Linked DNA regions of Homo sapiens: region 1 is linked to region 2. Evidence: fine-mapped QTL for protein levels in blood plasma. A gene starts in region 2. The other region holds a variant in brackets. All regions are shown on one strand. Distances are between the middles of the regions.

Region 1 (5,383 bases), 15 kb before region 2:
CCCCAAAGTATGATTAACCCTAATTATTTATCATCTGAATGGGTTCTGAGGAGAGAGGGGAAGGCAGAACAGATGCATCCTCAGTCCCAGCATCCCCCTCTCCACGCCTCTGTCTTCACACACTGTGAAGCTCCCCTCAGCCTCCAGCAGCCCTCTCTGAGGGAAAGTCATCTTCTCCTCTGTCATTATGTGGAGGGTTTCTCCTTTCTCCCCACCCATTCTCACTCGAGGAGGTCTTTCCATCCTCCCCCACACCCTTACCATGAGGGTCTCAGACTTTCCCCTCAACCCCACGTAGTGAGTAGTGCCTCGTTTTTCTCACTGAGCACCTATTTAAAATTTCCTCTACTCTATTATGCAATACATACTTTCTCATTGAGGAATATTCAGAAAATGAATGAAAATAGGAAAAAACCAAGCCACCTAAGCTTTCACCCTCCCTAAACAACTGGTGTTACTATTTTGATGTTTTTTCTTCCAAATTTTTCCCTGTAGAGATTTTTTCTAAAACACAGCTGTAATCATATAGCACATTAAATTTGCATTCTACTTTTTATATTTGTGATGTCATAACATTTTCTAACTTGAAAACCCATAGTTGTTGTGTTGTTGTTGTTTTGTGAGTCAGAGTCTCACTCTGTTGCCCAGGCTGGAGTGCAGTAGCACAATTATAGCTCACTGCAGCCTCAACCTACCAGGCTCAAGCGACCCTCCCTCTTCAGCTCCTTCCTGAGTAGCTGGGACTACAGGCATGCACCACCATGCCTGGCTAATTTTTGTATTTTTTTGTAGAGATGGGGCTTTGCTAAGTTGCCTAGGGTGGTCTTGAACTCCTGAGGTCAAGTGATCCTCCTACTTCAGCCTCCCAAAGTGCTGGGATTACCGACATGAGCCACCACTCCTGGCCAACCCATAGTTTTTTTTAAACAATTTTTTTTTTTTTTTGAGACAGAATCTCACTCTATCATCCAGGCTGGAGTGCAGTGGTGCGATCTCGGCTCACTGCAACCTCCACCTCCCGGGTTCAAGAGATCCTCCTGCCTCAGCCTCCCAAGTAGCTGGGACCACAGGCACATGCTAAAAATTTGTTATTTTTAATTTTATTTTTGATTCAGAAGCTACATGTGTAGGTTACACAGGTATATTTCATGATGCTGAGTATAACCCATAATTCTTTTTTTGAGATGGAGTCTTGCTCTGTCGCCTAGGCTGGAGTGCAGTGGCGCGATCTTGGCTCACTGCAACCTCCCCGTCCTGGGTTCAAGCAATTCTCCTCCCTCTGCCTCCCAAGAAGCTGGGATTACAGGGGCTCACCACCATGCCCGGCTAATATTTTTTGTATTTTTAGTAGAGACGGGGTTTCATCATGTTGGCCAGGCTGTTCTTGAACTCCTGACCTCAAGTAATCCACCTGCCTCGGCCTCCCAAAGTGCTGGGATTACAGGCGTGAGCCACTGCTCCCGGCCTAACCCATAATTCTTAATGTCTATGTATGAACAGACCTTCACCTGTGGTGGTCAGTTTCTTTGGCAGTTTCCAGAATTTCACTATTGCAAATAGCAAAATAATGCATCTTTTTGTATGTGAATCTCACAATATCTGTTTTATTAAGATAGTAAAGAAGACTTTTTTACTACAATAGGGTTTTGCAGTAGGGAGAGAGATCTGGCTCAATTCCTTCACAATGCCTTTCTGAGAGAAGATAATCCTCAATCCCATTCTTGCCCAACAAGCATTTGTTATTAAGTTTTTCAACACTTTCATCACTTGGTAGGGAGGTCTCCATTCAAGATATGTGTCAGGGAACATATCAAAAGCAGCCATTCCCCTTTCCCCTTCCCCATGTTTTTCACTTAAGTATAAGAGATGGTGAGCTCTGTATTGGTAGGGATGTTCATCTTACGTGCCAGACTGACCTAGCACAGGTGTTTGTTTGTTTGTTTGTATTGGAGTTTTGCTCTCGTTGCCTAGGCCGGAGTGCAGTGGTGCCATCTCAGCTCACTGCAACCTCCACCTCCCAGGTTCAAGCGATTCTCATGCCTTGGCCTCTCGAGTAGCTGGGATTACAGGTGCACACCACCACGCTCAGCAAATTTTTGTATCTTTAGTAGAGATGGGGTTTCACCATGTTGGCCAGGCTGGTCTTGAACTCCTGACCTCAGATGACCCACCCACCTTGGCCTCCCAAAGTGCTGGGATTACAGGTGTGAGCCACCATGCCGGGCCGCATAGGTTCTTAATAAATATCTATTGAATGAATTAACCATCTTTAAAGGTTTACAAGTACCCACTGCCCCCCGTGCCCCACCAGTCTCACTGCCTGACTCCAAGTCTCCTACACTAGATTTACAATGTGACTTCAGACTCGGTCTCTTTATTGGGATGGGTTCTGGCACAGCCTTAAAACCTAGACTTTTCTTTTGCAGCACAAGTGCATAAATGAAGCCTGGCTGGAGGTCCTTGTCCTTGGGCCATGCACACTTCTGTGTCTCCATTATAGTATCTGCCAAACATGGTCAGCTACCCTGATTCTTCATCTTTGTGAACTTTGACCTTCAAGTCCTGTGGATCCACACCTGGCCCTCTGGGAATCTGTGGTCAGGCCTGCTACAACTGCTCATGAAAGTAGTTCATTCATTTGGAGCCAATTTCATGAGGGCAGACAGCATGTCTGACCAATTAGTGTAAGCTCAGCATAGTGCTGGGCACATAGTTTATAGAGCCAATTAATACATCC[A/C]TTTTTGTCAGGTGCATCTGCTTCTGCTGGACTTGTCTGTCTGTTTTGGTCTTCTTGCCCTCCTGGTAGCAAGACTCTTGGTATAATCCTGACATCCAAGCCCTGGGATGGAATGAAACTCCAGACACTGACCTGGAGCCATCATTAATACAACAGGCTGTCATTAATATGTGTGACCTTGCATTTACATTTTTATAGGAATACTTCTAAGCACTTTTTTTATGGTTTGCTGACATTCACAATCCCATTTTTGGGATGAAGTGATTAAACCTTCTGGGTTTGAGGAGATTTCTCAGCAGTGGATGGAATTATGAACTCTTAAATCTAAAGAAGCATCAGAGATAATTTATCCTGGAAAAAAGTCAACGTTCTTCATTCTTCCTTGATGTTTCTAGTCAAATCAGTGAATTCTTCTGATTGTTTTCTTTGGGCCGAGAATTGTTTTTTTTTTGAGCAGAGACTTAGGGGAGTGCACTGCTGTCTAGATAACATTCTCATAGGCAAATAGCCTTGGTGTGTCTGGCATCGTGAGCAGTGAGTGGGGATTTTCCATCTGAAGACAGACAAAAAGAAAGTAGAGTGAGGGAGGTGAGCAGGGCTCTGGATCGTCCATGGAGACCCTGACATCCAGGAAACTTTATTTCCAAGGTTACCCAACCCAAATCGGCTGGCATGCTGGCTCCCACTGTTTGATTTTAATCACCCCTAGCTTAGAGAAACTATTCTGTAAGTTTAACGCATATTTATCTTGCTGAATGCTTAATGAACTGAACTTTCCTTGTTCAGTTGTAATAATTCACTAAACCAACCTTTTCTATTACTAAGCAAACTGCTTTAATGATTCTTATCTTTTTGGATCTGTTTGGGAGAGGAAGAAAAAGGAGACAGAAAGATACCATTACTGCTGCCAACCGTACTCTGTGAAGGAATAAGCCTTAAAGCTACTGCATTAGTAGTTTAACTGAGGGGAGGGTGCAAAGCAGATGTAACATAGCTGGACCATGGGAGAAAAGTAGAGATCTCTCCCTCCTGCAGTTTCCTGGTGTCTCAGGAGAAAGCTGGACTCTCCTCTCAGCTATTCCTCTCTTCATTCCATGCACAATCTAAGCCATGGTCTTTTTCCTTGTCTGCAACTTCAGTCAGAAGGCTTTTGATTTTCTTTATTATTCCGATCTAGAACCTCTGTCCTACTCTATTTGTTCCAGATTACCCAATTCGATTCCTAAAACACAATTCTCTTCCATCCCCCATGTTCTTGTATAACCCTAAGCAAAGGGAATGGGGAACTACTAGGGTACTTTTTAATTCTAGAGAGTATGAGATACCTGGGTCCAAGAAATTTTGACCTAAACATGAAGCAGGAAAAGAAATGGAACCATTAAGATGAAGTTAAGCTCTAAAGCTTCTTACCTTTTTCGGTATTTCCACAGTGGAGTAAACCGTATTTGCTGGATCTTCCTTTAGGATTGTTCTCTTTTAAAAACAAACAACAAACAAAAGAAATCATCACCCACCTCCTGAATCACATAGACAAGGCCAGAGAGACATTCAGAATCCAGAGAGGGGAAAGCAGAGATGGGAGGAGATGTGAGAGGAAAAGGAGGGTTCTGGAACAGGGAAGGGAGGTAGGAAGTTCTCTTGTTGGTGACTGCTATTATAATAAATTTTGATAACTTTTTTCAGGAAGCCATTACATTATTTTTAAACTGTACTGTGTTAAAATGAATTTCAAAAATATTATATATATATGTGTGTGTATATATATATATATATATATATATATATATATATATATAGAGAGAGAGAGAGAGAGAGAGAGAGAGAGAGAGAGAGAGAGAGAGATCTCTAGAGAAGTCTTCTGATACCATGATTCAAACATCCTGTCAAAGTCACACTCTTCTACCCACTGCCTTATGCAAAAGGAATCTGGCCTTTTGTGTGGCCGTTATGAACTGTGGAGGGGAGCAGGTGATTTCACAGACCACAGCATGAGCATTGTGAGTCAGAACCAGGTGCTCCAGAGACCACCAGCTTCTTCTGCACAGAAGAGAATCCATGAAGACTTGGAGGAGGCACAGGTGCATTGAGTTTTAAGTCTATATATCCTCACTCCCCTCTTCATTCCCATGTTGTCCAAACCCATGGAAAAACCTCACAAGGAGAGCCTCAGAGACAGGATCAGTTCTCAGGAAAGATGAGAAGGGACTCACATTAGTGTGAGGGATTGTGTCGTACTCTGTGTTCTCTCCAGAATGGGGGCATATGTTAGGAGTTTCCCGACAAATGTCCACTCTCTTCTTCTCTTCAATGTACTCTAAAAGCAAGTTGGGAGAGAATCAAAGCCACCTCTCCAACCACTCACCACTTCCACTGGCCCACCATTTCTCCTGGATGACCCACTTAGGGTGACCAACCAGCCGAGTTTCCTTGTAATGGAAGGGTTTTCAGGATAGAGGACTTTCAGTGTTAAAACTGGGAAAATCTAAACAAATCAGGATGAATTGGCCACCCCCAACATTTCACTTCCTGATCTCTCCATCAAGGTGGTCAAAGTGGGAAGTAGAGAAAGTCAAAGACACTTTCAGAGGGGCTTCCAGGAGGGAAGGGAGATTTCAAAGTCTGCAAGTCATACCCAACTGATGTTAG
Region 2 (5,383 bases):
TTCCCAAACCAGTGGAAGGCCAGGATTAGGAGCCAAGGCTCCTAAGGCAGGATTTCACAGACTGTGCCCCATGGCGCCACCTTTGGAGGCTGTGGCAGTGCCTCAGTGTATTTCTTGGGAGCTCAGGAGGAGGTTTAAGGGGTGAGCGTAGGATAGGAGGCTATGGGACTTGCTTCCGTTAGGCTTCAACTCTATACATTGGAGTCATTTATTTGTTTTTTTCTGTGTAAAATTTCATTCCATAAAAGGAAACCATGGATTTAAAAAAAAAGGCAAAAAAAACCCAAAGTGGTTTGAAATCTATTGCACTTTACTCAAGTCCCCCTTAACGAATGTACTCACGAAAGAGCAGTGTAATTCAATGCCACACAAGGCAGCCACAGACAGAGGCTTGAAAGTTTCCCGCTTCACCACACACCTTTCCCATCACTCTAGCCCTAACCGACCACATTCACATTTAGGTTGCTCACCACTCTGCTCCTCACTCATCTCCTGCCCCCTCTTCCTTGTTTCTTCTGGTTCTTTTCAACACTCTCCCAATTCCCCTCACCCACTTTTTTGTTTTCTTTTTATTGATTGTCTCCTTGACACTACTGTATCATCAAATCATTGGCAGATTACTGTGCCCATTTTTCAGATGAGAATACTGAGGCCATGAGAACTGCTTCATGGACCCTCTGAGTTTAGCCAGGGTGGCCCCCTGTTGGTACACCCATATCCCAGAAACAGAGCTACCCGTTCTTCTCGGGCCTTTCCAGTTTCTACCTCAGATTTATGTACCTGGAGAGGGAAGAAACCCCAACTGGTACTCCCTGAGGAAGATTCAGCTCAAATGCACATGTAGTGAGCATCTCTTTGGTGCCAGGTCCAGTGATAGACGGCTTGTTATGATTAAAAGAGCACTAGCTTTCTAGCTTTCTAAACTCAATCTCTGGCTACCTTATAAATGCTGTGTTATCTTGCCCAAGAAGCGTGATCTCTCTGCTGAGCCTAAGTTTCCTCAACTGTAAAACAGGGATAATGATATCTGTCTTACAGACTCATGAGGAGGTGGTATGAAAAACACCTGCGATGTAGTAACTTAATAAATGGTGATTATTTTAATAATTATTTTGCATTTGATATGTCATTTAAAATGTCACAATAATTCTGCAACTTAGATTTCATTCTCTGTTACACACCTGAGAAGAGCAAGGCTCAGAAGGGAAGAGTAATTTGCCTACAATAATACAGCTACTAAGTCAAACCAAGGATGCGCTTGTCCAGTGCCAGGATTTGTTCCACTGCCCTGCCCACTGGAAGTTCCAGGACAATCTCTGTCTCCTTTCAGCCTCAGGAGGTACACTACACAGGCTGCCTCTGGAGGAGGGCAGAGGGGGACCTGCATGGCAGTTTTTCATACTTGTGCTCTTTCGCTGACTGATTTCAGATGGACACCTGTAGCTTTCAAAGTCTCTATAATTTTCCCCAACCCCTCCACCTTATCTCCCTCAAGTTCTATTTCTGCTCATCATTTCCGTTCAGGGAGTTTTTTTTTTGTTTTTTTTTTTTAAAGTGAGGGCCTATTCCAGAACCACCTGGTTAGACCCAGGTACCTCTCAAAAATACAAACTTCTGATGAATTCAAAGTGGGTAAGAGTCTGCTGATGCTGACCACTTAGCGATGCAGGGGAAAATATTGGGGGCACCAGCTGCCTGCGTGGTCTTGGGCAGATCACTCCAGGCAGGCTCAGATACACATAATGAAGCAGTTATGTGAAGTCCTTATAGGGGGACCTCATGGTAGTACTCCATGAGATTGATGACAGAAGAGATATTTCTCACTTATAGGGCTCCTGATCCTTTCTGAGAGCCCTTAGGATAGAAAAATCTTCAAAGACTAGAATACCAGTGACAGGTGGAGAACTGTCCTCTGTCCTCCATGGGATTAAACATAAAGTGCCTATGGTATGAGTTGGTTCTCTAAGTAGAGACTGATTACATTGCTTGAGTAAGGAAAGAAAATTCAAGTGATTCTTTCCATTTATATTACTGTTATGCATAACCAATTTTATAAATACATTTATAAGTAAATAAATACATACCTGTATAGTATCATCTTGTTCTTAAAGTTGCCCTCAAAAGGAGAGAAGGCTAGAAGATAAAGTTTCTGAGGCCCAGGAAAACTTTAACATTCCTTATCTAACTCATGGCAGAACCTGGATTAGAAAAATGGTCTCTGATACCCAGCACCACTTCTTTCAGCTCCTTCATCCCTGGGACAGTCAACAGGGGAGTCAGTTCCCAGAGCCATTTTTCCCCCTCTCTCTAGTCTCTTCCTGACCTGAGAATCAGAGATCAGAGATTGATAAAAAGCAAATGTTAGATGAGAACACAGAGCCTCCCGAGTTGAGCCAGAGGCCCAGAGTGGAACAAGAAACCTGGAACTATTCAGGATGGGGTAGACAGGAGAGTGGAAGAGAATCCGGCCGGACTCACCTGTGAGCTGCCAAAGGATATAGATGAGGGTGAGGCATGTTGGGGAACCAGCCATATTGCTCTCTGGAAGTCAGCCACTGAAATGAAGCCACTTCCCTCTTAGGTATTACTCAGACCTCTTCCCCAGCTGATATTTAAAGAAGCAGGAGGGGTCACGCCGCAGACATGTGAGATTGAGTAATTGCTAAATTATTTTCAGAGTGAATAGAGCATTTTACCTTGCCACCAGCAATCTATGAGAGATCTATTTGCTCCCCATCTTCATCAGCATTTGGTATATTCCCATTTTATATTTTAGCTGTTTTAATAGGTGCTGTAGTGATACCTCATTGTGGCTTTAATTTGCATTTCCCTAAAGCCTAATAATGTTGAACATCTTTTCATGTGCTTATTTGCCATCTATATATCCATATCCTCCTTGGTGAAATGTCTATTTATGTCTTTTGTCCATTTTATAATCAGATTCTTTATTTTTTTTACTGTTGAGCTTTGACAATTCCTTATATGTTCCAAGTATAAGAGTCATTTGTCAGATATGTGGTTTACAAATATTTTCTCTTGGTCTGTAGCCTGTCTTTTCATCTTCTTAACGGGGTCTTTGGCAGAGCAAAAATTTTAATTTTGATGAAATTCAACTTATCAGTTTTTTTTCTACCCACACTAGGGTCCAAAGGTTTTCTCCTGAAAGTTTTATAGTTTTATGTTTTACATTTAAATGTATGATCCTGTTTTAATGTAAGGTGTGAAGTTTAGGTTGAGATTCACCTAAATATATTGTCTATATTCATTGAGAACCATATCAGGTAATATGGTTGACAGTTTTTTTTTGCTTTCGACACTTGAAAAGTGTCATGACACTCCTCCCCTCCATGGTTTCCAGTGAGAAATCAGCCATCATTTAAATTGTTTTCCCTATAGGTAATGTGTCATTTTTCTCTAGCTGTTTTAAAAGTTTTTTGTTTGCCTTTGGTTTTCAGAAGTATGATTACAATGTGCGTGTTTTTTTTTCTTCTGCCTGTGGGTGTTCAATTGTTCTACTACCATGTGATGGAAAAGATGATCTTTCCTACATTGAATTACTTTTGTATCTTTATCAAAAATCAGCACTTATACTTGTGTGGGTATATTCTGGAGCTATCTATTCTATTTAACTGACTTACATAATGTAATTATTTATATATCAGAGCTTAAGTTTGCCATGTTATTATTTTCTCTTTGTTCTTCTGGGCTTTTGTTTGTTTATTTTGTTCCTCTGTTTCACTTTCCTGGCCATCCTGTGTGTTACTGGAATATTTTTTATAATTCCATTTTGATTTATCTATAATGTATCTTTTTGAAGAGTTTTTTTACTGGTTGCTGTACATATTGCATTTTACATACATAACTTTTGATCTACCTATCAGTGTTGACATTTTACCAGTTGAACTAGGTATAGAAAACTTACCTATATTAGGTTTCTTTATTAGTCTATCTTTATACTTGTCTTAAATATATTGTCTATATTCATTGAGAACCATATCGGTAAGATTATAAGTTTTGCTTCAATTGTTGAACATAATTCAGAACACTCAAGAGGAGAAGGACAATCCATTACATTTACCCATATTTTAACTCTTTTCATTGTTATTTCTTTATTTCTAATGTTTCAAGTTTCCTTCTTTTTATTTTTTTTTGGACGAAGTCTTGCTCTGTCATACAGGCTGGAGTGTAGTGGCATGATCTTGGCTCACTGCAATCTCCGCCTCCTGGGTTCAAGCGATTCTCCTGCCTCAGCCTCCTGAGTAGCTGGGACTACAGGCTCATGCCACCATGCCCACCTACTTTTTGTACTTTTAGTAGAGATCAGGTTTCGCCATGTTGGCCAGGCTAGTCTCAAACTCCTGACCTCAGGTGATCCACCAACTTTGGCCTCCCAAAGTGCTGGGATTACAGGTATGAGCCACCACACCCAGCCTTCAAGTTTTCTTCTTTAATCATTTCTTTCTGTTTCAAGATATTCTTTAGGAATTCTTTTATGATAAGCCTGCTGATAACAAATTATCTTAGTTTTCCTTCACCTGAGAATGTCTTGATTTAACCCTCATTCCTGGGTATAAAATTCTAGGTTGACAGTTTTTTTTCTTTCAACACTTGAAAAGTGTCATGACACTCCTCCCCTCCATGGTTTCCAGTGAGAAATCAGCCGTCATTTAAGTTGTTTTCCCTGTAGGTAATGTGTCATTTTTCTCTAGCTGTTTTAAAAGTTTTTTGTTTGTCTTTAGTTTTCAGAAGTGTGATTATAATGTGTCTTGGTGTGAATTTCTTTGGGTTTCTCTTATTTGTGATTCATTGAGTCTCTTGAATCTGTAGGTTTTTACCTTTTGCTAAGTTTGGGGAAATTTCATTATTTTTTGAATACTTTTTTTTCAGCCTCACATTCTCGCTTCTCTCCTAAAATTCTGATGACATGAATGTTATAAATCTTTTGTTTTTCTCCCACAGGGCTCTGAGGCTCCATTTTTTTTTTTTTTTTTTTTTTTTTTTGGCCTATTTTCACTCTGTTTTCAGATTGGGTATTTTCTATTGTTTATCTTCAAGTACACTGATTCTTTCCTTTTTCATCTCCATTTTGCAATTTTTTATTTTTTTATTTTTTCTGAGACAGAGTCTCACTCTGTTGCCCAGGCTGGAGTGCACGATCTCAGCTCACTGCAACCTCTGTCTCCTGGGCTCAAGCGATTCTCCTGCCTCAGCCTCCTAAGTAGCTGGGATTACTGGCACCCGCCACCACACCTGGCTAATTTTTATATTTTGGTAGCGACAGAGTTTTGCCATGTTGGCCAGGCTGGTCTTGTACTCTTGACCTCAGGTGATCCGCCCACCTTGGCCTCCCCAAGTGCTGGGATTGCCAGTATGAGCCACTGGC

The links. PIP is the posterior inclusion probability: the model's chance that the variant is causal. Sun 2018 read protein levels with aptamers (SomaScan).
Region 1: its variant is fine-mapped to the plasma level of the SLAMF7 protein (Sun 2018, PIP 0.95).

Annotation. Positions count from the first base shown.
Region 1 is chr1:160,751,013-160,756,395 of GRCh38, reverse strand. It overlaps SLAMF7 (SLAM family member 7), which reads right to left. Exons shown (of 7, transcript NM_021181.5): 5 at 4,948-5,051; 6 at 4,148-4,210; 7 at 1,575-3,290. The coding sequence ends at 3,219. Among named protein-coding and RNA genes, the nearest start is that of SLAMF7, 14 kb to the right of the region's middle. RefSeq lists an enhancer at 855-904 and a silencer at 4,574-4,633. The variant A/C (reference allele first, on the strand shown) is at 2,738.
Region 2 is chr1:160,736,452-160,741,834 of GRCh38, reverse strand. It overlaps SLAMF7 (SLAM family member 7), which reads right to left and starts at 2,588. Exons shown (of 7, transcript NM_021181.5): 1 at 2,479-2,588. The coding sequence starts at 2,533. It overlaps LOC124904440 (a long non-coding RNA gene), which reads left to right and starts at 2,676. Exons shown (of 2, transcript XR_007066687.1): 1 at 2,676-2,752.